Linked DNA regions of Homo sapiens. The protein of the gene in region 2 purifies or fractionates together with the protein of the main gene of each other region. This does not show direct contact. Each region holds a gene or a part of one and is shown on either strand. Other genes may lie near its edges. The genes, in order: KIRREL1, SPACA1, GOLIM4, MTNAP1, SLC25A26, TTC21B and FASTKD3.

The links.
Region 1: the proteins of SPACA1 (region 2) and KIRREL1 purify together in Homo sapiens (affinity purification with mass spectrometry; 3 studies listed by BioGRID and IntAct, with this or other methods). This does not show direct contact.
Region 3: the proteins of SPACA1 (region 2) and GOLIM4 purify together in Homo sapiens (affinity purification with mass spectrometry; 3 studies listed by BioGRID and IntAct, with this or other methods). This does not show direct contact.
Region 4: the proteins of SPACA1 (region 2) and MTNAP1 purify together in Homo sapiens (affinity purification with mass spectrometry; 3 studies listed by BioGRID and IntAct, with this or other methods). This does not show direct contact.
Region 5: the proteins of SPACA1 (region 2) and SLC25A26 purify together in Homo sapiens (affinity purification with mass spectrometry; 3 studies listed by BioGRID and IntAct, with this or other methods). This does not show direct contact.
Region 6: the proteins of SPACA1 (region 2) and TTC21B purify together in Homo sapiens (affinity purification with mass spectrometry; 3 studies listed by BioGRID and IntAct, with this or other methods). This does not show direct contact.
Region 7: the proteins of SPACA1 (region 2) and FASTKD3 purify together in Homo sapiens (affinity purification with mass spectrometry; 3 studies listed by BioGRID and IntAct, with this or other methods). This does not show direct contact.

Annotation. Positions count from the first base shown.
Region 1 is NC_000001.11:157,996,645-158,000,144, forward strand, and holds part of KIRREL1 (kin of IRRE-like protein 1 isoform 1 precursor), read left to right. Parts: intron 1-3,500. UniProt on the Homo sapiens protein: Required for proper function of the glomerular filtration barrier. It is involved in the maintenance of a stable podocyte architecture with interdigitating foot processes connected by specialized cell-cell junctions, known as the slit diaphragm.
Region 2 is NC_000006.12:88,061,341-88,064,840, forward strand, and holds part of SPACA1 (sperm acrosome membrane-associated protein 1 precursor), read left to right. Parts: intron 1-2,739; coding exon of another isoform or gene 2,740-2,758; coding exon 2,759-2,879; intron 2,880-3,500. UniProt on the Homo sapiens protein: Plays a role in acrosome formation and establishment of normal sperm morphology during spermatogenesis. Important for male fertility.
Region 3 is NC_000003.12:168,085,925-168,089,424, reverse strand, and holds part of GOLIM4 (Golgi integral membrane protein 4), read left to right. Parts: intron 1-3,500. UniProt on the Homo sapiens protein: Plays a role in endosome to Golgi protein trafficking; mediates protein transport along the late endosome-bypass pathway from the early endosome to the Golgi.
Region 4 is NC_000017.11:73,235,433-73,238,932, forward strand, and holds part of MTNAP1 (mitochondrial nucleoid-associated protein 1), read left to right. Parts: intron 1-43; 5' UTR 44-50; coding exon 51-1,563; coding exon of another isoform or gene 1,564-1,664; exon of another isoform or gene 1,665-3,206; intron 3,207-3,500. UniProt on the Homo sapiens protein: Critical regulator of mitochondrial DNA (mtDNA) abundance. Binds dsDNA throughout the mitochondrial genome without sequence specificity and controls mtDNA copy number by promoting its replication.
Region 5 is NC_000003.12:66,224,001-66,227,500, reverse strand, and holds part of SLC25A26 (mitochondrial S-adenosylmethionine carrier protein), read right to left. Parts: intron 1-3,500. UniProt on the Homo sapiens protein: Mitochondrial S-adenosyl-L-methionine/S-adenosyl-L-homocysteine antiporter.
Region 6 is NC_000002.12:165,877,277-165,880,776, reverse strand, and holds part of TTC21B (tetratricopeptide repeat protein 21B), read left to right. Parts: coding exon 1-98; intron 99-809; coding exon of another isoform or gene 810-949; exon of another isoform or gene 950-3,500. UniProt on the Homo sapiens protein: Component of the IFT complex A (IFT-A), a complex required for retrograde ciliary transport and entry into cilia of G protein-coupled receptors (GPCRs). Essential for retrograde trafficking of IFT-1, IFT-B and GPCRs.
Region 7 is NC_000005.10:7,862,532-7,866,031, forward strand, and holds part of FASTKD3 (FAST kinase domain-containing protein 3, mitochondrial), read right to left. Parts: intron 3,453-3,500; coding exon 3,367-3,452; intron 467-3,366; coding exon 292-466; intron 1-291. UniProt on the Homo sapiens protein: Required for normal mitochondrial respiration. Increases steady-state levels and half-lives of a subset of mature mitochondrial mRNAs MT-ND2, MT-ND3, MT-CYTB, MT-CO2, and MT-ATP8/6.

The DNA.
Region 1 (3,500 bases), on a different chromosome or scaffold from region 2:
TAACTGGACTCTCCCCTTTCGGTGCTACACATAGACACATATACACACTTTAGATGTCCCACTTCTGCCCAGAGCAGGGCGCTGAGGTTGGGGAAGAGTCAGGGGAGACATGGCAGAAACCAGGACACTGGGTTCCTCTCTTTGACCTTGACTGAACTCCACTTTCTGCCTTCTACTCACTTAGACCCAAAGGGAGGGTGTGAACCAAGTACTCAGTGCCTCAGCCCTGGGCCCCAGAGCACCTGGTCAGGAGGAGGAGGAGGAGGCATCCAGGCCTTCTCGCCTCTGCTCCTTCCCACAGCTGAGTGGTTGGTTGTTCTGGCTCTGCCTTTGGCGCTCCAGTGAGATGGGAGGAGGAAGCCCCACCTCTGCCCCCCTAGGACCTCTTTACACCCTTACAAGGACTAAGTCTTAATTTCTTTTATCCTATAGTTTCTGGTGGTAAGTGCCCCTTAAATATCTGATCAATTGATTGATTTGATGAGCGCGCTGCAGTGCTGGAAAGAGGCAGCATTCGATGGCGATTAAATCACAGACTCGCATCCAGCTCCCACCTCCACCATTTGGTAGTCGTAAGCTTGAACAAGTCATGTACATTCCCTGTGCCTCAGCATGCTCTTCCAGAAGTGAGGATGGAAGTAATACCTCATAGGGTTGTGGTGGCACTTGAATATGTTAATCCATGTAACGTACATGGAACAGTGTCTGGCACAGCGAGAAGTGCTCAGTAAATGCTTGCTATCTTGGCTTTGAGGTGAGACATAGATAGACAGGCAGTCAAGTTGTCTGCGCTTCCTTTTCTTCTCCCTATGATTCTTTGTGGGGTGTGTGTGTGTGTGTGTGTGTTTTCTAGCTCCAGCTCCCCAGATTCTTGGTCCTGGGCTTCAGTAAGTGCCTTCTTTGTATCTCTCATGGAAAGAACTATGTTGTGGCAGACCCAGAAGGGGAAACTGACCCCCTCCTTGGAGACCTCAGAAAAGATCTGGGGAAGGGATTTGAGGAGAGAGAGCAAAAGTGGAAGAGGTTGGCACTTGAGTGAGAAGGAACCAGAGCTCTTGTGTGAAATGAGGAGGGACACTAGCCCCGAGGTGGCAGCATTTCAGAGTCTGGAAATAATATGGATCATTTATTGAGCCCTGTGTAACTACTTCATATGCATTATCTAATTTAATCTATGCTACAGCCCCCTGAGATTGGCTGTGTAAATTATCCCCATTTCATGGATGAGAAACTGAGATTTATTTATTTATTTTTTTAGATAGGGTCTTGCTCTGCTGCCCAGGCTAGGGTGCAGTGGTGTGATTATGGCTCACTGCAACCTCCTCCTAGGCTCAAGCCATTCTCCTACCTCAGCCTCCTAAGTAGCTAGGACCACACACACCTGGCTAATTTTCTTTTTTTTCTTTTGGAGAGATGGGTCTTGCTAGGTTGCACAAGCTAGTCTCAAACTCCAAGGCTCAACCGCTTCTTACATCTCGGCTTCCCAAAGTGCCGGGATTATAGGTGTGAGCCACTGTACCTGGCCAAGAAACTGAGGTTTAGATACATTAAGTATCTTATTGGTAGTTGTAGGAACCAGTGGATCCCACAGCCTGCACCCTTCTCCTTTGCCAGATCCTACATGCCAGCAGAGACTGATGCTGGACTGGGACAGGGATTTTCCTGGTCCATAGCAGAATGAGAACTAGGAAGAAAAGGGAGTGAGTATTTCATAAAGGTAAACTCATTCAAATTTAAAAAACAATCCTTTATTCTGAGATTCTGTCCTACATTTTTTGGTGTTAAATTGTTTTTCTTTGATGATATGATAAATCTAGTAAATGACTTTTTTCAAGGACTTGGCAAATAAAAAGGTTTGTTTCTAATATTAAACACAGCCTTGTTACAGGTCCATGAACTACAAATTTGGGAATTATTCTTGTTCCATGCAAGGCTGACTCCTGGAGAGGCCCAGAGCCATACAGAGGCAAAAGAAGCACTGAGAAGGGGTCTAGGGGATAATCCTGAGACCAGGATCTCCCCAAGTGTCAGCTTCCAAATTTGTCTGGTCCCTGGTAGTCTGGTAGGATTGGAGGCTAGGGTCTTAGATGGCTTGTTCTAACCCGCCTGGGGAGGCTTTCAACCCTCCTTCTTAGCCTGTGCCCTGGGGAACTGCCTGGCCTTGGGTGGTGAAAAGTGATTGTAGGAGGTGAACTCCATACCAAAGCATCAAAATTACCTTTTATTGAATTCCTACAGTGTGCTTTTCAGGTTAATGTTACTCCCATTTTATAGATGAAGAAACCACAGTTGAGAGTTTAAGTAACTTGCTGAAGGGCATACCTGAGGTGTTAGACCCCAGATTCAACCCCTCTTTTGTCTCCCTCCTAAGCGCCATGAGTGCCCTTCAGCCTGCCTAGAAGAGCCACACCCTGCCTTTCTTAGAGTTAAGGCAGCTGTGGAAGGACAGGAGGGAAGCCTAGGCCTTTTTTCCTCTCCTGGTGCCTCACTCAGCTCAGCCCCCTTCCCTAGTTCTCAGCCCAGAAATTCCAAGGACACATCTATCTCCCTGCCTTGCTTTGATGATCATTTGTGAAGCAAAACTTAGATGTCAGGATACATGTTTTAATCAGTGGGGCTGGGACCAGTAAATAATGCCCCTTGTCAGAAGGAGGTTTGGAAAGCCTCAATCCTTTTCCTCCCACGTTTAGAGTCTTTTATCTTTGTACCTGTATGGTGCTTGGCAATTTTAGCAACTTTTCACATGTACCATTTGATAGAGAGATACACTCATCCTATGGTGTAGGCAGGAGAGTTGTTTCTCCATTTAATAGATGAGAAAACAGAGACCTAGAGAAGTTAAATAAATTGCAAAGGGGTGGCAGTTGGTATGGAGGGAAGGGATGGGGACAAATTCCTTAATCTCCCCAATTTCTGGGAGATGTTTCCATCTGAGGCTAGAGACATTTCTCTTCATATGTCCAGAGATGAGAAAGTTATGCCCCTTCCCGACCTACCAGTTCCTGTCTGGTTTCTTCCCAGGGCCTCTGGACCAGTTTACTTGGCAATCTCCTGGAGGGTTCTTTGACCTGGAAAAGGATGGGGGTGTGGGGGTGGGTTGTCAGCAGTAGAGGAGAAAGAGGCTGTCATGTCCTTGATCCTCAAATGTGAAACCAGGGAGGAGGAAGAGGCAATTTCAGAAATCAGGAAAAATAATGGGCTCTCTCAGAGTGGGGGAGAAATCCGTTCACTTTTGTGAAGGGCAATTTTGTATTTTACATGCATTAGTAACTAATTCAATACTGACATAATTGTTGAAGTTAGGTGTTATCCCCATTTTACAGATGGACAAACAGGGATCCAAAGAAGTTAAGCAGATTGTCCAAGATGATCCAGCTAGTAAGTGACAGAGCCAGAACTAGAACCCAAGCAGGAAAGATGGGGTGGGGGCTGAGGATAATTCCTAGAAGGAAGACTGCACACCTACCTGTTCTGCATTACTGCTGCATGCAAGCGTGTGG
Region 2 (3,500 bases):
TTAAGATGAGGTTGTACTAGAGCAGAGTGGGCCTTTAATCCAATATAACTGGTGCCCTCATAAGAAGAGGAATATTTGGGCATGCTTGTGCGCACACACACACACACACACACACACACAAACACAGATGGAAAGTGGGGCGCGGAATGCCAGGTGAAGACACAGAGAAACAGACATAGGGAGAAGACAGCCATGTGAAAATGGAGACAAAAATTGGAGTTATGCTACCAGAATCCAAGGAATTTCTGAGCCTACCAGAAGCTGAGAAGCTGTAAGAGACAAGGAAGGATCCTCCCCAAGAACCTTCAGTGAGAGCATGGCTCGGCCAACACATTGTTTTCAGACTTCTAGCCTCCAAAACTGCGAGACAATACATTTCTGTTGTTTTCGTCACCCAGTTTGTGGTACTTTGTTATGGTGGTCCTAGGAAACTAATAAGTACATAAGCTTAGTTTATCTAAAAGGTGAGAGCATCAAATTTAGCCTATTTTTCATTAAATACTTCAATAGGAAATTGAGCCTATTTTTTTCATTACCTGTAAAAATAGTCTAGGTGACCCTTGCAAGACTACTGTTGTAATAAATAAAATCTTCATGCCCCTCACTCTCCACCCTCTCTCAGCTAACATTGCAGAGTAATGGATAAATGAAATTTGCATTTCTCCTTGTCAGGTGTCAGTTCTGAAAGGTGTTTTTTATTTAAGTTTCCAAAATGCCACCACTTGTGTAAATCTAAAGTTATTTTGAAATAAAAAGATTTTTAAAAATCCAACAATGTTGGAACGTAAATATAGATGTATTTTCTCTAGCATACTTGGAACTATTTAGCGAGATCCCTAACTTGAGTTTATAGCTCTAGAATTACTAGGCAAAATGGAAACTTATACTCCATGATGTCTAACAGATAGGGAAACAAATCCAGAAAAATAAGCAGTTGAGATTGCTCATATAGAAGACTAGTTCTGACAGAGTAGTACTTATCAAAATCAAAGTATTTAAATAGTCAAAATATACCTTGTACAAATTAAACCTCCCTGGGCCTTGGTTTACTTATCTGTATAATGCAATAGTTGGATCAGATGATCTCTGTAGTTCTTTCTTCCATGAATCTTTTATGATTCCAGAATTTGGGGTCATAAAAGAGATACAATAAAGCTATGTAATTCACAAAGTAAGTAATATTCTATGTTAATTGGCTTTTTACTAGTTTACAATGTAGCAATACTGTAATACATACGGTAGATTGGCTTTGTCTCTTTGATAACCTTATTTGCTGAAAGAGCAGAGAGACATGGGAGAGAATGCTTGAGGTAAGAGTGGTGCATGAGGTGGGTACAGTGGTGTGTGCCTATAATACTAGCTACTAGGGAGGCTGAGGTGGGAAGATCACTTGAGCCCAGGAGTTCAAGGCCAGCCTGGGCAATATAGCAAGACCCCATTTCCTAAAGAGAGAGGGGTCGGGGTATGTGGATATGTGTATAGAAAACAATGAGCTTCAATTCCTTTCTTACAGCAAATATAAAAATTAGAGAGGTATCATAGTCTTAAGTGTAAAAGCTAAACCCATAAAGTTTTAGGAAAGAAATATAGGAGACTATTTGCATGATTCAGGAGTAGGCAAACGTTTCTTAGACATAATTCAGAAAACAATCACCATAAAAGGAAACATTGAATAAATCAGACTGCATCAAAATTAAAAACTTCAGCTCATTAACAAAAATCATTAGGATAATGAATAGGCAAGCCAAAATCTGGTAGAAAACATTTATAAAACCTGTACAGTCAGTACAATCAGTTTGAGAAAGTTCTCATGGTTTCTTAGACAGCTAAACACACATCTGTCTACCCTACGACCCAGCAATTCTATTATTAGACATTTAGCCAAAAATTAAGATATATATTCACAAAATGACTTGTATAAGAATGTTCATGGCAGCTTTATTTATAGTATCTCACAACTGGAACAGCCTAGATATCCATCAGTAGGAGGATGAGTAAACAAATTGTGGAGTATACCTAGTAATAATAAAAAAATGATAGTTGCATATAACAGTATGGGTGAATTTCTAAAACATTATTCTAAGTAAACAAATCTTTACACAAGAGATTACCTAGTGTGTGTTTCAATTTATATGTAGTTCTAGAATAGTCAGAGCTAATCTATGGTGGAAAAGAAAATCAGGATGCTTGTTGCCTCTGGAGGATGAGGAAGGAGTTAATTAGGAAGAGGCTCAAGGGAACTTTCTGGGGTATAGTAATATTCTATATCTTGACTAACATTTAGTTACATATATGAGTTTGCCTTTGTCAAAACTAAGCAAATGTACATTTAAGATCTTTGTGCAATTCTTTGTGTGAAAATTTTATTTCAAAGAAAAAACTAATATTAAACTCCAGTTAACGATATGCTTGCTGAAAAATTTTTGAGGAAGTGTACTGACATTTGCAAATTATATTGAAATGCATAAAAATAAGATGGATTAATGAATTGATAGAGGAATGGATAGATGAATTTTAAAATATTAATGGTAGTATTTAGATGGTGGTAATACAGGCTGTTCGTTGTCAAATTCTTTTAACTTTTTTCATGTTTGAAAAGGACATTTCAAACATGCAGAGCAAGATCATTAATAATTTTCTCTGCACTAAGCATTTCTTTATGTTTCTAGAGTTGTTTTTCAAATATAAACTTTTAAGTTAGATATTCATTTCCTTTTCCTCAGTAGTAATACTCCTTAGGTTTGTGTGTTTTCTCTAGAATTGCAGATGAGAAGATCAAGCCTACCAGCCACTGATGCAGCCCTAATTTTTGTGCTGACCATAGGAGTCATTATCTGTGTATTTATAATTTTCTTATTGATCTTCATAATCATAAATTGGTAGGTGAATAGTGGAATGCATCATCACCCTTGATTGACATCCTCTTCTTCCCCCTCCTCATCCAGTGAATTGCAAAGCCCTGTCCGTGATGTCTCCTACATGTTGCCTTGAAACTGTCCATCGCCTTTCATTACTCCTGTGACTGCCCTAGTTCAGGCTGCCCCGTCTCTTTATGTAGATGCTTTTTAAAACAATCTCATGACTTGCTTCTCCAACTATGAGAGAGCTTTTAAATGCAACTTTTACAATTTTACACGGTAATTGCTTTAAAAAGTTTTATTTAATGAATATTTGTGTTGTCCAGTTGTGGTTCTCTCAACTCTAAAACTTGGTTATTGTAACCTACTAATTCATTTGTATGACAATATTTATAATACCTACATGAGTAGTACACCCTGGTAAGTCTGAGGGCTCATATACTATCGATTTGTAGCTGATGCATCGCAAACTAAAAATGAATAATGAATACAAAGGCACTTCTTAGAGAAGAGGTAATATATATGTTTTATATATATGTACATATATATGTACATATATTGTATATACAATATACATATATCTTCTATGTACATATAATGTATATACAATATACATATATCATATATAGGTCATATGTGTGT
Region 3 (3,500 bases), on a different chromosome or scaffold from region 2:
GCATTTTGGATGATTGAGGAAACATATACAACAGAGTGGTTCATAGACCTCAGCAATTTAGACCACAAGTGTGGGCAATGTGTGGTAGGTGTACTAATTTTCAAGTGCAGCGTTAGAACTTAAAACATGAACTAGACATTGTCTATTAAATGGACATCTTCACTGAAGTACAACTTAGAGTTAAATGAAGAGACTATCATTTTTGCTTGATCCTGTACCATTTAGAATATGGAACAAAAATACTCTTAAGTTCAGTAATTTTTATTTGTGTGTAAATTCCTTCCCTGAATAAAAGATAAAAGCTTCCAAATACCTTTTGAAGCTCTAATTCAGTGAAGCATTCTTTTGAATATGTATGATTTGCACATAATCTATAATCGATTTCACACGTTGTGCCCACCTTAGTCATCCCTCTAATATGTAACATGCCAACTCTAATGAGAGTACTGGTGTCCAGGTAAATAATTGGTTGCTGTGTAAGAGAATTACTTGTTATCTGGGAGCCTTTAGTTTAAGTTCCAAGTAGATTGGAAGCCTTGCCTTGATTTCTTTTTATTCTTTCTTTTCTTAGGAAGGACAGTTTCCAAAAGGGCTGGGGTACAATACCACATTACTGTGGCTGAAGGAATAAGTGAATTGGAGTTGGGGAAATGAATACTGACTAAATATGGTGTGAATCAAAAAGCAAAGGATTGGAGAGAAACCAGAAGAGGGCAGGGAAAGAAAAGGGGACACATATCACCTGGTGACTTTTCAAAGTACTGAGGAAGAGTTTTGTTCACATCTTTATGTCCTAAAAGAAAAGCAGCAGGAAATGGTGACTGGAGAGCTGGTTGGGGCATCAGATGTGGTTTCAGTGCAACTCAGGCATTTACCAGCAGGGTGACCTTGAGCAGGCAAATAACCTCTCTGAACTTCAGCCTCTTCGTGTTTTAATTTGGGTTAGCAATGTCTAACTTGCAAACTTGTATGGATTAGAAATAGTGCATCTGAAGTGACGAGTATGAGTCCTGGAGAATATTACTACTACCATTTATTAGGTGACCAGAACTACTGTTGTTGAATTAACATTGGGCTTCTTTTTATTTTGCCCAGCCTTTACTACATCTAGTAGGTAAGAGTGTTATTAGTGCTGGCCTAAAAGTGGCTCCTTTCACTATGTGCCCTACTTGGCTGAAACTTTTTGATTAAGATATTCTCACTCTGTCTTTTCTACCCTTTTGAGCCGTTCTTGGGGTGGAAAAAACCTGAAAATGCTTTACATGATAGCAACTAAGAGTTGTTGTTTTTCATTTTGACAGCCAATGGTTCTTCTTTTATCATTAAGGACAAAGTGGTTTTGCTACTTTTGCCAGTAGATGGTTTATGGGTTTTATAGCTTTATTTTGAAGTGAAAGTTATATATCATATAGCTTTATTATAAAAGAAAAATGATAAACTATATTTTCTTTTTAGCCAGTGTTCTTTGGAGTGAATTTTAGTAGAATTTTGAAAACTTATTTGAGAAAATTAAATTATTTTTAATCCATAACATTTATTGAGTACCTACCATGTTCGGGTTCAATGCTAAGCTTATTACATGCATTATGTCATTTAACTGTGACACTAGCACTTTAATCTGAATGAGCAATCTGAGGCTTAGAGAGGTTAATTAACTTGCCAGTGTCAAGATCTAGCCTGATGAAACTAAGCTTAGAAACCTAATGTAACTTTTTCCATAGTGCATCATTGCCCTCAAAATTATTTTAGTGTCTCTCATGACAGTATTAATGGTTTTAAGAAAGTAGGTTAGGTGGGTCATATGGGGATTCATGATAAAATTTAGAATCAGAAATAACGGGTGTACTATTTGATGCAGCATTTCCAGGGTACAAGAAATTTGCTGCTGGTATGAAAGATGATTTTGGTTGATACTAGAGTTGATTTTATGTGGCATGTAGATGTTGCCTGAAATGACAGTGAATCATATAATGAAAAACTTATTTCCTTTCAATGCTTTCCTGACAAGTAATGGAGAAATTCTCAGTCTGATGCTAGAATCTCTCTCCTAGAGAGTTGCTTCTCTGTTTTTCCAAAGAGAATAGACGTTAGGCAGCCAACAACTTGATAGCTAGAATTTGATAATTGTTTTGTTGTATTATTGTATTTAATTTTAAAATTAAATCTATTACCAATCATTAATGCTATGTAAATCAGATTTTTCATTTATAAAGTAGTGGTGTAAAAGTTTCCTGTTTAAAGTTTATTTTAAGGAAAAATAAACTTATTTAAGTGATTATTTGGTGGATTCAAAAAAACTGTACAGGTTTTGCATGAGTGTAGTAAGAACTCGCCTGAGGGGTGCCTGCATGTCTGAAGTTTAGGAATGCATTGACTGATCAAGTTGGATACAGACACTGAATTTTACAGTTAGTTAACTGAATTCTAAGGTGGATAAGTCACTTACCAGGTAGCTTAAGCTAAGCTGAGAGCCCACATACTCTGACTCTCAGTACAAGATAATACCCCTTCACTGCTCTGTGCTGTCTCTGTAGACTAGGACCCTCTTCTCTGTGAGAAGAAATGGGCATTGCTATTTTTAAACAGTGCTGTGTATTTCTGAATGGTATATTTGTGTTCTTTGTTTTTATTGGCCCATGAGTGCATATGCAGAAGACATGTCAGTCATTGTCCTTCACTGATAAGCTTTACTAAATAGGCTCATAGCCCGGAGGGACATGGGCATGAAATAAATTGCTCTCTATAGCCGTATGACATTTTAAAAAATACTGCTTTAACTATTTTTCATACATAAAATGTCACAATATGATAGTGAATAGAAAATTAAGATGTGCTGTCATTCTGAAGGATAGGCATTATAGAACATTGAAATGATATTATTTGCTTTTCTTTGGGAGTGCATGAAGTTAAAAAAATTATAATCATTTTAGGAGAGTCAGACATTTCATTTTCCAGTTCACATCTCATTTAAAATGCCTCCTTTAATTGGAATCTTTGTTACAAACAGAAAAAATAATCTGCAAATCAAGATATTTAGGACAGCTTTGACATTGCTTATGTGTTCTCTTGATAATAGCTATGATGCTGTCAAATAAATATTATAAACAGATTAAAATTTGGCAGTTGATAATTGATTAATTTGGTTTAGAGAAGTTTATCAAGTTTTATATTAGTGAGATTTATTAATAAATAATATTAATATTAGAAATCTATGATGCTTGCCCTTCTGCATTAGTAGCTCAATCTTTTAACAGACAGAAAATGTTTTAAATTATTTTATATTTTATTTAGAGGTTTGGATGCTATAAAACAAGTTAAATTGTATTGATGTCAAACATCACTTTTATTAAAATATGAAAAATAATTTTTTTTACTGTATAGGCGGTCATCACCTCAAAATCTAGATGCCATCCAAATTTGATCCAGGTGTGGGTGAGGCCCCTTAGGTATCCATACAATCTTTAACTATAATTCTTCAAGTATGCTTCCTCTTTATCTGT
Region 4 (3,500 bases), on a different chromosome or scaffold from region 2:
ACAAACTATGTGCTTCTCATAATCTCACATTTACCTTTTTCAGGAATAGGATGAGTGATAATCCACCCAGAATGGAAGTGTGTCCTTACTGTAAGAAGCCATTTAAACGATTAAAATCCCACTTGCCATACTGTAAGATGATAGGACCAACCATACCTACTGATCAAAAAGTTTATCAGTCCAAGCCAGCTACACTCCCACGTGCTAAAAAGATGAAAGGACCAATCAAAGATTTAATTAAAGCTAAAGGGAAAGAGTTAGAGACAGAGAATGAAGAAAGAAATTCTAAGTTGGTGGTGGACAAACCAGAACAGACAGTGAAGACCTTTCCACTGCCAGCTGTTGGTTTGGAAAGAGCAGCTACTACAAAGGCAGATAAAGACATCAAGAATCCAATCCAACCATCCTTCAAAATGTTAAAAAATACTAAACCAATGACTACTTTCCAAGAAGAAACCAAGGCTCAGTTTTACGCATCAGAGAAAACCTCTCCTAAAAGAGAACTTGCCAAAGATTTGCCTAAATCAGGAGAAAGTCGATGTAATCCTTCAGAAGCTGGAGCGTCTTTACTGGTTGGCTCAATAGAACCTTCTTTGTCAAATCAAGATAGAAAATATTCCTCAACTCTACCTAATGATGTACAAACTACCTCTGGTGATCTCAAATTGGACAAAATTGATCCCCAAAGACAGGAACTTCTAGTAAAATTACTAGATGTGCCTACTGGTGATTGTCATATTTCTCCAAAGAATGTCAGTGATGGGGTTAAAAGGGTAAGAACATTATTAAGCAATGAGAGAGATTCCAAAGGCAGGGATCACCTCTCAGGAGTCCCTACTGATGTTACAGTTACTGAGACTCCAGAAAAGAACACAGAATCCCTCATTTTAAGCCTTAAAATGAGCTCATTAGGTAAAATCCAAGTCATGGAGAAACAAGAGAAAGGACTTACCCTGGGAGTAGAGACGTGTGGGAGCAAAGGAAATGCAGAGAAAAGTATGTCTGCAACAGAAAAGCAGGAACGGACTGTCATGAGCCATGGCTGTGAGAACTTCAACACCAGGGATTCAGTCACAGGAAAGGAGTCTCAAGGGGAAAGACCACATTTAAGTTTGTTCATTCCGAGGGAGACGACTTACCAGTTTCATTCTGTATCGCAGTCAAGTAGTCAAAGTCTTGCCTCTCTAGCTACAACATTTCTTCAAGAAAAGAAAGCAGAAGCCCAGAATCATCATTGTGTCCCTGATGTAAAGGCATTAATGGAGAGTCCCGAGGGACAGTTATCTCTGGAGCCCAAATCTGATAGTCAGTTCCAAGCATCACACACTGGGTGCCAGAGCCCTTTATGTTCAGCCCAGCGTCACACTCCTCAGAGCCCCTTCACCAATCATGCTGCAGCTGCTGGCAGGAAGACTCTTCGCAGCTGCATGGGGCTGGAGTGGTTTCCAGAGCTCTATCCTGGTTACCTTGGACTAGGGGTGTTGCCAGGGAAGCCTCAGTGTTGGAATGCAATGACCCAGAAGCCACAACTTATCAGTCCCCAGGGGGAAAGACTCTCACAAGGTAAACAAGCTTATTTTCAATTGCCATCTGTCCCATCCAAAATGCTCTCTCTGCCTTTTGAATTTATAAGGGTCAAAATACTAACATTTTCAGTCATTTAGTTTATTTTCACCTAGGCATGCCAGTAGACTGCATATAAAGTTGTCCTGAAAGAGGCTGGGTGTAGTGGCTCACACCTGTAATCTAAGCACTTTGGGAGGCTGAGGCCAAGGCAGGTGGATCACTTGAATTCAGGAGTTAAGACCAGCCTGGGCAACATGGTGAAACCCCATCTCTACTAAGGATACAAAAAATTAGCTGGGTGTGGTGGCGCACCTGTAGTCCCAGCTATTTGAGAGGCTAAAGTGGGAGATCACCTGATCCCGGAAAATCAGGGCTGCAGTGAGCCGAGTATGTGCCACTTCACTGCAGCCTGGGCGACGGGAATGAGACCCTGTCTCAAAAAAAAAAAATTGTCCTGAAAACATTACTTCTTGCTTCAGTGGTCAGTAGTGGTGGTTTATCCCTCTCTTTTTCTCTCCCCCAAGAGTTGAGGGTTACACTAGGGCAGGCTGGCGATACTGAAAGCAGTTGAGTTTCTGCCTTGAGAAGAGGCATGTCCAGTAGAAACTGGATGGGTAAACAGACTGGAGAAAAATATAAAGACTTGAAATTCAGCTAGATAGAATAAGCACTGTGTTCAGAATCCAGTCAGGACCAGGTTGTACAAGAAATAGGTTCTAAGTTTACAGGACAAGAAATAGGTTCTAGGTTTCAGGCAAATGCAACATCTAGGAATTTAGAGTAGCAAAGTAGGATGCAGGTGGTAGGACACAGGTAAAACTAGCCAGGTAAGACGGGCAGGCAAGGCAGATAAGTGGAAGTGGAGGCTCAGGAAATGAACAGTGAAGATCAAGGACCAGAAACGGAGGATGTGGCCAAAAACAAAAGAAAAAATGTAGGCCACAGAGACTAGGACCCAAGAATAAAACCAGTGATTGAGCCTGGAAACAGGAGAGATGAGGCGAGAAGGGCTTGGGGCGAAAGACTGAACGTTGAAACTCACCTTGATTATGAATCAAACTTCAGAAGCTTCCTAGAGGCTCCTTTTGCTGATGGCTGGAATCGGTTAACAGGAGGGAAGACCAAGGCCCAAGGAGCCAGGAAGTTCCTGACAGTCATTTGAAATATCTTTGCTTTTCTCTGCTGAATCTCATCTTTAGTTATGAGACCACCTCTCTAGTTAAAATACATAAAGTTTCTTAAGCTTTTCTAGGGGCAGGGTGATTGTAAAGTAGCATACCTGTCGTTTGTAAAGTAGCATACCTGTCGTGTGTAGTGGCCATTGGTGCTTTCATGCTTATTTTGACAGGAGACCTGTAACAACTCAGAATAGGTTTGCAAGAGAAAAACTGGTATTATCTCTTCCTAAAGGGAAATCATTTTCTTCTCTGGTAGATTTTGCAAATGATCTCATATTCACTAAACCTCTATTTGCCTGGTCTCAAAATGGATGTGTACTAAAAGCAGAACATTGCTAGCCCAAAGCTACATTTTCTTTAACTACCTTCTATAAACAGGCCTAACGTCTAGACCTTTTTGCACAAAGTTGTAGTCACAAAGTCAAGCCCCTTCTCCGTAATAAACACATTTAATTATATTAACATTTGTGTTGCTTTGTGGTTTTCAGAGTGCCTCCATCTGTATTTTTTTTATTTTGGGCACAAGGTGGACAGAGAGGTGGGCAGAGTGAATTTATCCTATTTTGTGGATGATGAAACAGGCACAGAGAGCATAAGTGATTTGTCCAAGTTTGTGTTGCCAATAAATAGTAGAGCTGCAAGGAGAACCTAGTTTCCTGAGGCCTAGTTTAATCTTTTCCACTAAACCATGTTGTAGAAAATACACCATAACTAAAACCATGTTTGTTATAGTGCCATACTTTTCTGTGTGTGTGT
Region 5 (3,500 bases), on a different chromosome or scaffold from region 2:
ACAAATCACAATACAATTAACAGAAATCACTGCCTATTACTCAGTTTACGCACAGACAGCAAATAGTTGTTACCTCATCTCCCAGTAATAAATGCACACGACATTTTATAAAAATAGACAGAAAACTGATGAACAAAGATGAAAATGCAAAAAAAATGAAAAGTGGTAACACAAAGTTAAACAAAAATCAGACATAAATGGTATTAGAGAACAAACAGCTGGCCATGGAAATATTCACACTGCTGTCATTAATCTAGATAAGTAACTAGAAAAAATAAGTGAGAGCAAATTTAACATAAATAAGGAAAGTAGTTGTGATGAAAAGGATGAAAATGTCCCAGACTAAGTTATGTCAGCAAGTCTTCGCATTAAACGAACTCACAACATTGAAAGCACAAAAAATAAAATGTTAGAAGTTGATCCAAACTGAGAAAGCAGTATGACAACTTGCCAAGGCATAAAAAGATGCTTCTTCTATAATACATAATGAGAACACAAGCAAATGTTCAAACTACTGTTGATAAGGTTTTGTCCAAAAAATTAAGTTATTAATGTTTCTAATGTTTTTAATTACAGTGTACTAAATAAACATCAGCTTTGCAATTTTTCCCCTATATATTACAACCAAAGCGTTTTTAATGTTTTGACAAAAATTCTTAGGGTGGGCCAGGTGTGGTGGCTCATACCTGTGACACCTCTTTCTACAAAAAAAATTTTCTAAAAACTGTAAGAACAACATGGGCTGGGCTCAGTGGCTCATGCCTGTAATCTCAGCACTTTGAAGCTGAGTCAGGAGGATTGCTTGAGGCCAGTACTTCAAAACCAGCCCTGGCAACACAGCAAGACCCTGTCTCTACAAAACAAGAAAATTTTTAATTAAAAAATTAGCCAGGCGTGGTTGGTGCATGCCTCTAGTCCCAGCTACTCAGGAGGCTGAGGTGGGAGGATCACTTGAGCAGAGACAGCACCACTGCACTCCAGCCTGGGCAACAGAGGAAGACCTTGTCTCAAAAAAAAAAGAAAAGAACGCACATGAAATGGTTTGGCTCTGGGTCCCCAACCAAATCTCATCTTGAATTGTAGCTCCCATAATTCCCACATGTTGTGGGAGGGGCCTGGTGGGAGGTAATTGAATCATGGTGGCAGGTCTTTCCCATTCTGTTCTGGTGATAGTGAATAAGTCTCACAAGATCTGATGATCTCATAAAGGGGAGTTCTCCTGCATACGCTCTCATCTGCAGCCATGTAAGACGTGACTTTGCTCCTCCTTTGCCTTCTACCATGATTGTGAGGCCCCTCTGCCAGCCATGTGGAACTGTTAGTCCATTAAACCTCTTCCCTTTATAAATTACCCAGTCTTGGGTATGTCTTTATCAGCAGTGTGAGAACAGACTAATACAGGAAATTGGTACCCACAGTAGGGTGCTACTATAAAGATACCTGAAAATGTGGAAGCGACTTCAGAATGGGTAACAAGCAGGGGTTGGAACAGTTTGAAGGGCTCAGAAGACAGGAAGATGTGGGAAAGTTTGGAACTTCCTAGAGACTTGTTGAATGGCTTTGACCAAAATGCTGACAGTGAGATGGACAATAAAATCCAGGCTGAAGTGGACTCAGATGGAGATGAGGAACTTCTTGGTAACTGGAGTAAAGGCCACTCTTGCTATGCAAAGAGACTGGCAGCATTTTGCCCCTGCCCTAGAGATCTGTGAAATTTTGAACTTGAGAGAGATGATTTACAGTATCCGACAGAAGAAATTTCTAAGTGGCAAAGCATCCTAGAGGTGACAAAGCATAAAAGTTTGGAAAATTTGCAGCCTGATGATGCGGTAAAAAAGAAAAACCCATTTTCTGGAGAAAAATTCAAGCTGGCTGCAGAAATTTGCATAAATAACCAGGAGTCAAATGTTAACTGACAAGACAGTGGGGAAAATGTCTTCAGGGCATGTCAGAGACCTTCATGGCAGCCCCTCCCATCACAGGCTCTGGAGGCCTAGGAGGGAAAAAATGATTTCCTGGACTGGGTCCAGGGCCCCCTTGCTGTGTGCAGCCTCAGGACTTGGTGCCCTGTGTCCCAGCCATTACAGCCGTGGCTAGAAGGGGCCAAGGTAGAGCTCAGGCTATGGCTTCGAAGGATGCAAGCCCCAAGCCTTGGCAGCTTCCACATGGTGTTGGTACTGTGGGTGTGCAGAAGACAAGAACTGAGCTTTGGGAACCTCTGCCTAGATTTCAGATGATGTACGGAAACGTCGGGATGTCCAGGCCGAGGTGTGCTGCAGGGGTGGGGCTCTCCTAGAGAACCTCTACTGGGGCAGTGTGGAAGGGAAATGTGGCTGCCCCAGTAAGGAGTCCCCACCAGGTCACCACCTGGTGGAGCTGTGAGAAGAGGGCCACTGTCCTCCAGACCCCAGAATGGTAGATCCACTGACAGCTTGAACCCTGTGCCTGGAAAAGCTACAGACACTGAATGCCAGCCCATGAAAACAGCCAGGAGGGGAGCTGTATCCCACAAAGCCACCATGGGAACCCACCTCTTACAGCAGCGTGACCTGGATGTAAGACATGGAGTCAAAGGAGATGATTTCAGAGCTTTAAGATGTGACTACCCTGTTGGATTTCAGACTTGCATGGGGCCTACAGCCCCTTCATTTTGGCCAATCTCTCCCATTTGCAATGGGTGTATTTACCCAATACCTGTAACCCCATTGTATCTAGGAAGTAATTAACTTGCTTTTCATTTTACAGGCTCATAGGCAGAAGGGACTTGCTTTGTCTCAGATAAGACTTTGGACTGTGGACTTTTGAATTAATGCTAAAATGAGTTAAGACTTTGGGGACTGTTGAGAAGGCATGATTGGTTTTGAAATGTGAGGATAGGAGATTTGGGAGAGGCCAGGGGTGGAATGATATGGTTTGGCTCTGTGTCCCCACCCAAATCTCATCTTGAATTGTAACTCTCATAATTCCAATGTGTTGTGGGAGGGACCTGGTAGAAGGTAACTGAATCATGGGGGCAGGTCTTTCCCTTGCTCTTCTGGTAATAGTGAGTAAGTCTCACAGGATCTGATGGTTTTATAAAGGGGAGTTCCCCTGCAGCACATGCTCTCTTGTCTGCCACTATGTAAGACATGACTTGCTCTTCCTTTGCCTTCCACACAACTGTGAGGCCTCCCCAGCCAAATGGAACTGTAAGTCAATTAAGACTCTTTCCTTTATAAATTACCCAGTCTCAGGTATCTTTGTTAGCAGCATGAGAACAGACTAACACGATGTAATCCTACCACCAAAAATACTTAGTGCTATTTTGGAGTATTTCAATCTGGCTTTTTTTCCCCATGAATGGAATAGGTTTTAACATAGCTTTAATTAGGTACAAGCAAATATACATACATGCAATGTTTTTCTCTTAATTTTATCTCATAAGCATTTTCCATGTAATTATAGTACATTCTCTTCACAAGCACTATTTTTTATGGCTGCAGACTAGTCCAAGAAATGGG
Region 6 (3,500 bases), on a different chromosome or scaffold from region 2:
TATGGGATACATTATGGAAAAAGAGCAAGCATATACAGATGCTGCCTTGAACTATGAGATGGCATGGAAATATAGCAATCGGACAAATCCGGCAGTAGGTGAGTTTGGCAATCACCTAGATTTTTCACAGAAAAATTATGTTGTATTTATTAATTTTCATTTAAATGCATTTGATTTTTTTCAAAACAAAATAAACATTGAGTCAATTTTCATTGTCAACCTTTCTGAAAGGAGAATAAATTTTATATTCATAATATATTATTAGCTACTAATAGTTCAGTTTCCTGAGTTCCAAACTTGTCCTCAGTCACTTAGTGTACATCTAGTCTAATTCTGCCCCCTTCTCTTCCTTCTAAAAGAAGGTGCTATTTTGAAATTGGGAATGCCATGGAAAAAGATGTTTCCATTGCCAAGTAAGTTAGGAAAATATTGCATTAAATTGAATTACACAGGTTTCTTTACTTCTCAAAGCCTTTAAACACTAACGTATATTGCGATGGATATCACAGAGGGGCCATGTTTCCCACAATTATTTGACCATGGGACATTTTTTTTTTCTCCTGAGCATCTAGAAACATCATCCAGTCCCAGGCTGGATGTTGCAGGCTGTTAGTTTGGGTAATGCTAGTCTACAGTGTCCCTAACAGAGGTGGCATCAGAATATATGTCATGACCAACCTCTCTCCTCATACGAGGGAGCTCATCCTCATGTTTGTGTACTCTTTCTTTGTATTGGGTTGAAATATGCCTCCTTGAAACTGCCCAAGTCTGTTTTCCGGAGCAACTTACAGAATGCCTCCCTCTTACAGATCATGACCCTTTAAATTGCAATCTTCAGTCCTGTGTCCTAGGACTTGTCTTCAAGCCATCTGCAGTTACTTGTCCATTCTTCCTAAGATTGGATTCCGAGTCTCTCATCTTCCTTGTTGCTGTCTCCTGGAAGCTCTAAAATAGTGTTTCCCAAACTGTGCTTTGGAACAGTTGGGGAGATTTTAATAATTATTTTTTTTTTAATTAAAAAGAATGAAGTGTGAAGGTGGTAGATGCCATGGCCATGTAAGTTTGGAAAGTGCTGTTTTATTTTTCCATGCCCCTCTGACCTGTTGTACCATAAATGAACAACCTCTCAAATATGATTTGGCTTCTTATAAGTATAATTAAGCTATTTTTTTCTTTTGATTAGGCAATTTGTAGTTGTTAATTCAGCCTAAGATGGCATCAGTCTTTTCAGCAGCCATGTCACCGTGTGAATTCGATTTTGATTTGCAGTCAAATGAGTCAACCTCATACTAACTGCTGTTAGCTCAGGTCTTCCCTCATCTGTTAGTTTCCTGGAGTCTGTTCTCATACTATACTAGACTTGTGCAAAGCACAAAAACTAATGATTTTTATAGTATTTTTTATTCTAAGGTGTGATATATCTTTCAGAATAAAGTCATCTGGTAAAATGAAAAGTCCTTAAATATCCTTAAAATATTAATTTTGACACTTTATTCCATAGAAGGAATGCACATAGAAGTTAAATTATTTATATATTCCATTCCTTGGAAGACCTCAGCAAATAAAGAGATTCCAAATGACTAGTTCTTTCATTGTGTCATCATTGTATTTTATAGATTATTTTATCAGTTCCTCTAGCTTTGCTTTGGTAATCATTTCTTTCTAAGGCTCTCCATTAATTCCTCAATTTCATCCTTAAGATTGTCATTGCATCTAACACCCTCAATGTGCCTGGCCAAATAAACAATGTATTTCACTTTTTCAGTTGTCAGAAAACCCTTAAAATCATGCTCATGGCCAGGCGCAGTGGCTCACACCTGTAATCCCAACACTTTGGGAGGCCGAGGTGGGCAAATCACCTGAGGTCAGGAGTTCGAAACTAGCCTGGCCAACATGGTGAAACTCCGTCTCTACTAAAAATACAAAAATTAGCCGGGCATGGTGGCGGGCGCCTGTAATCCCAGCAACTCAGGAGGCTGAGGCAGGAGAATTGCTTGAACCCGAGAGGTGGAGGTTGCAGTGAGCCGAGATCACACCACTGCACTGCAGCCTGGTTGACGGAGTGAGACTCTGTCTCAAAAAAAAAAAAAAAAAAATCGTGCTCATGCTCTTTCCATAGAATTCAGGGTTGAATATTGTCACTATAAGAGGCACCAGGATGAATGATGAATGGATAATTTGCTTGACTGCAGTAATCATTTATAAATAAATATATATACACACACACACATATATCTACACACCCACATCTACACACCGACATCATTTTGTATATCTTAAATATATACGAGGAAAAAAAGAAACACACTAGGAACAACTGAGATCCAATGAGAGAAGAAACTACTCATGTTTCACCCTTCATACCTATTCTCAGGTTATAGGACAGTCATTAGACTGTGTAGAATGTTTGCATTCTCTCGCTGTCTCTCCTGATTGCATATAGTTGAGTTCTAATAAGTTTGGCAGGTGTAGTGCAGCTGCAGTGCACATTTTCTTTCCCCTTCTTAGGTCTTTATTTCCTCTGAAATTTTTGTACCAGGTCATGTATCAAGTTTCTTCCAGTGTTAAAATTCTGTGATTATAATATAGTGAATGCTTACATTAAAAAATGCTAATATTTTGTGGTATTCTAAGGTTTTAAAAACCATTTCACAAGTATTTTATATGATTTTTAAAATTATACTAAGAGTTAGAGGGAGGAGTTGTTATTCCTGTTTTAGCGATGAGGAAACCTGAAAATGACAGCTCAAGCCACTTGCGTAAGATCCCAAAGCTAGTCAAGAAACCACAAACCAAAACTGAAATCTTGACTAGTTCCCATGTAAGTATGTTTGGCATGACATCTTAAAAATTGCTTTACTTTTTGAATGTCACAAACCCTTTTAGTTCATTTTAGAATTTGTTGGTAATGACATTAAGTTTACCTCTCTGAAACTTCTTATTTTTGTCTAAAATCTGAGATGTGAGATTCTGCCATAGGCCCTGCCCATGTGTGCCTGTGTGCATGTGTGTGTGTGTAGAGATATATATATACACACCTATATAGACATACATATATATACACACACATATATAAACATACACACATATATATATGCAGTCATGTGTCGCTTAACAATGGAAATCTTCTGAGATATGCATCATTAGACAATTTCATCATTGTGTGAACATCTTAGAGTATACTTACACAAACCTAGGTGGTAGATCCTACTACACACCTGGGCTATCTGGTATAGCCTATTGCTCCTAGGCTACATACCTGTACAGCATGTTACTGTCATGAATGCTATAAGCAATGTGTGTATGTAAACATAGAAAAGGTACAGCAAAAATACAGTATAAAAATCTTTGGGACCACCATCATGTATGTGGTCTGTTGTTAATGAAACATCATCATGCAGTGCCTGACTATATATAAAATAGTGTGAATTTTAGATCATTTCTATTTCTTTCTTTTTACTACCATCTGATAATGTTAGCCAGTAATTCTTTTCAAACAT
Region 7 (3,500 bases), on a different chromosome or scaffold from region 2:
TTAAGTAAGTCTTTGAGGTCAATATTACTATCATTTTACAGAGGAAGAAGCAAGCAGAAAAAGGTTAAATATTCTGCCCAGGATATTCTGCTACTACGTGGCTAATATTTGAGACTTAAACCCAGACAGTCTTGACTCAACGGCTCTGCTGCTAACCCCAACTTGCCTTCAGGGAAGGGACCATTCCATTTTGCATTTCCAGAGAACTTCTATTGCTTCTAAGTCCCATATATCTCCAAAATCGAACAGGATGCTTAGGTTTAAAACAACAAAACTCCTTATACTACTTACCTATTGTATAACAATAGGGTGTCAACACTTTTGGAGCAAAATATAATCTTGCTCCTAAAAGGTTAGTCAGCCCAATCTTCACATATCTATAAAGCTGAGAATCCACAGGGGTCTCCAGGGAACAGCATGGGGTAAGAAATGACTTCACTTGATATTTAGGAAGGAGTTTTGGACCCTAAAAAATCATAAGTGCAAATGTGAGAAAGAAAAATAAGATATAACAACAGAGAATAAATTGAAGGTTACCTAGGTAGAAAAGTTTGATATAACATTACTTTATAGGCATGATACTTTTCCAGGAATTGGGACAGGCATCTCTCTCAAAATGATAATGCAAACTTCTCTTCTTACAGTGCAAGTCTAATAGTTCAAAATGTCTTTTATATGTGTTTTTACAGTAGTCACTGGTTACCATAAACAGAAAGAAAAGTAAAGAAGGAAGGTAAAAAGGAGTGAGGAGAGAGTGAGAAGAAACATAATAATGCTAACAGTTCAAGAAACATTTTTAGAACTGAGAATTGTCCCAAGGGTCTTAAGTACACACAACTAAAGTTTTCAACACAGGTTTAATTTCTCTAATCTGAAAATCCAAAATCCAAAATGCTCCAAAATCCGAAACCTTTTAAGCACAGACAGGCTGCTTAAAGAAAATGCTCATGAAGCATTCTGGATTTCAAATTTTTGAATTAGGGATGCTGAACTGGTAAATATAATGAGAATATTTTAAAATATGAAAAAATCTGAAAGCTGAAACACTTCTGGTCCTGAGCATTTTGGATAAGGGATACTCAATCTGTAATGGAAAATGTGATATAAATGACATTCCAGTTTAGGAAGAAAAGGATAGCAATATAATAAACGATGCTGGAGAAAATGGTTATTTATTTGGAAAATAACTAAATTAAACTTCTGTCATCCATGACAGATGCTAATAAATTCCAGGTGTACAACATGCTGACTATAGTTAATAAGAATGATTGCGTGCTTGAAAATGGCTGAGAGTACTTTTTTACCTTTTTTTTTGTTTGTTTTTGTTTTTGTTTCTGAGACAGAGTTTCACTCTTGTTGCCCAGGCTGGAGTACAATGACGCGACCTCGGCTCACTGCAACCTCCGCCTCCTGGGTTGAGCGATTCTCCTAACTCAGAGTCCAGAGTAGCTGGGACTACAGGCGTGTGCCATCATGCCCGGCTAATTTTTTGTATTTTTAGTAGAGACAGGGTTTCACCATGTTAGCAAGGCTGGTCTCGAACTCCTGACCTCAGGTGATCCACCCGCCTTGGCCTCCAAAAGTGCTGCGATTACAGGCATGAGCCACTGCGCACGGCAAGAGTACATTTTAAATATTCTTACCACAAAATAAAATGATAGATATGGAGGTAATACACATGTTAATTGGTTTGATTTAGCCATTCTACAATGTATACATATTTCAAAACAACATGAACATAATAAGTATATACAATTTTTGTTAATTAGAATACATAAATAAAAATTCAATTTTACTTTTAGATCAAAGATCTAAATAAAATTTAAAAGATATTATTTTTAAAAATGTAAAATATTCATGCTCTTGAGATAGGAACCTCGGAAGTCATAAAAGACAGATTCGACTACAGAACATTTAAAAATACATCATAAGTAATATTAAAAAGTAATAAAAGAGTACAAATCGGGAAAATATGTACAACATTCATAATAGTTAATATCTGTTTTACAATGAGTCCTTAAAGACAAACCATCCAACAGAAATAAATTAAGGTGTAGAAAGGCAATTCAAAAGAAATGTAAATGGCCAACACATATTTGAAAATATGCTAAACTTCATTAATGCTCATTAAAATGCAACTTAAATATATGATATGATATCCTCTTTCATGTAGTTGAGTAACACAAATTAAAGAGACTACTAACACACTGCAATAGAAGTGGAGGAGACATGGCCACCTTCATTCATTGCTGGGGAAATGTGACATCTGTAACTATTAGGGAAAAAAAATCTGCCAGTATCCATCAAAAATTAATCCACTAATCACATTTTTGGGAATCTAGTTTATATATGAAAAAAACCAAAAAGGCTCTAGTATGACAGGATTTGCAAGAATGTTTATTATAGCATTCCCGATAGAGACAAAAGTTGCAAAAACCTCCAAGTGCATCAATAGTAGAATAAACACCATGAAATATCATGCCTTTCTAAAAAGAATGCATGTGATCTGTATGCACTGGCCTCGAGGGATGGCCATGATATACTGCGCATAAAAGCAAATTGTACTTTGATTAGTGAGTCTCATTCCTTGAAAAGAGAAAAAAAATAGACAGTGTTTATGTATCTGTATACATTTGGGCGTAGAAACTGCTTTTAATACTGTTCCTTTAGAAATGGTAAGAGATCGGGGTTAACTATTATTTATCTTTATATAACTTAGTACTGTCTAAGCTGTTTTAAAAAAGGGGTATTTTTCCATTCTTATTACCTTATTTCAAAAATCAGATACTCTAAACTATGATTCAGAGTCAAGTAGAGAGAAGCAGAGAGAGAATGTCATAGTCTGGTGTGCTATTTCTGATTCTACATAAGGAATGTGATAGGTAATAGGATAAATCTTTATAGGTCTTTATGGGAAGAGCGAACTCTAGATAAACTAAACTCTATTAGATAAAAGTGAAATTTCTGGCTTGGCTTAAAAATATACTGTACTTGCAAATAATTTAGGTATTTGTTCAGTCCAGACATTCACACTTTGATAACAAACAGCTATGGGAAACCTAGTAGTAAACCTAGTACTAAAACCCTGTAAAACCTTCAGAGAGAATGGAGAAATACTGTAACTCACATGCCTGCAGCACTTGATAAAACCTCCTAAGAAATCTTAAACAGCAGGAAATTGTTCCTTCAAGAACAAGAACACAAAAATGGGGTCCATTTATCAAAGAAAAGCCTATCTGGTGGCAACTGACTCCAAGTAAATGAAATTCTGCTTTTTCAGGTTATTGAGACAGATCAGAAGTAAAGGAACTTAAAAGGAAACTGCACCCATGGGGAAATAAAGCCACATATAGTTCATGCTTTTACCTTATAGAAAGGGCATTCCAGGACTGAGGCTAAGAAAAGTTGGGTCAGTTGTGCCCGACTCAATGTGTCCAAATGAGATTCTTTACCTGAAACAGAAAGCATCCCAGTCATAGTTACGTCTGAATTGAGGTATG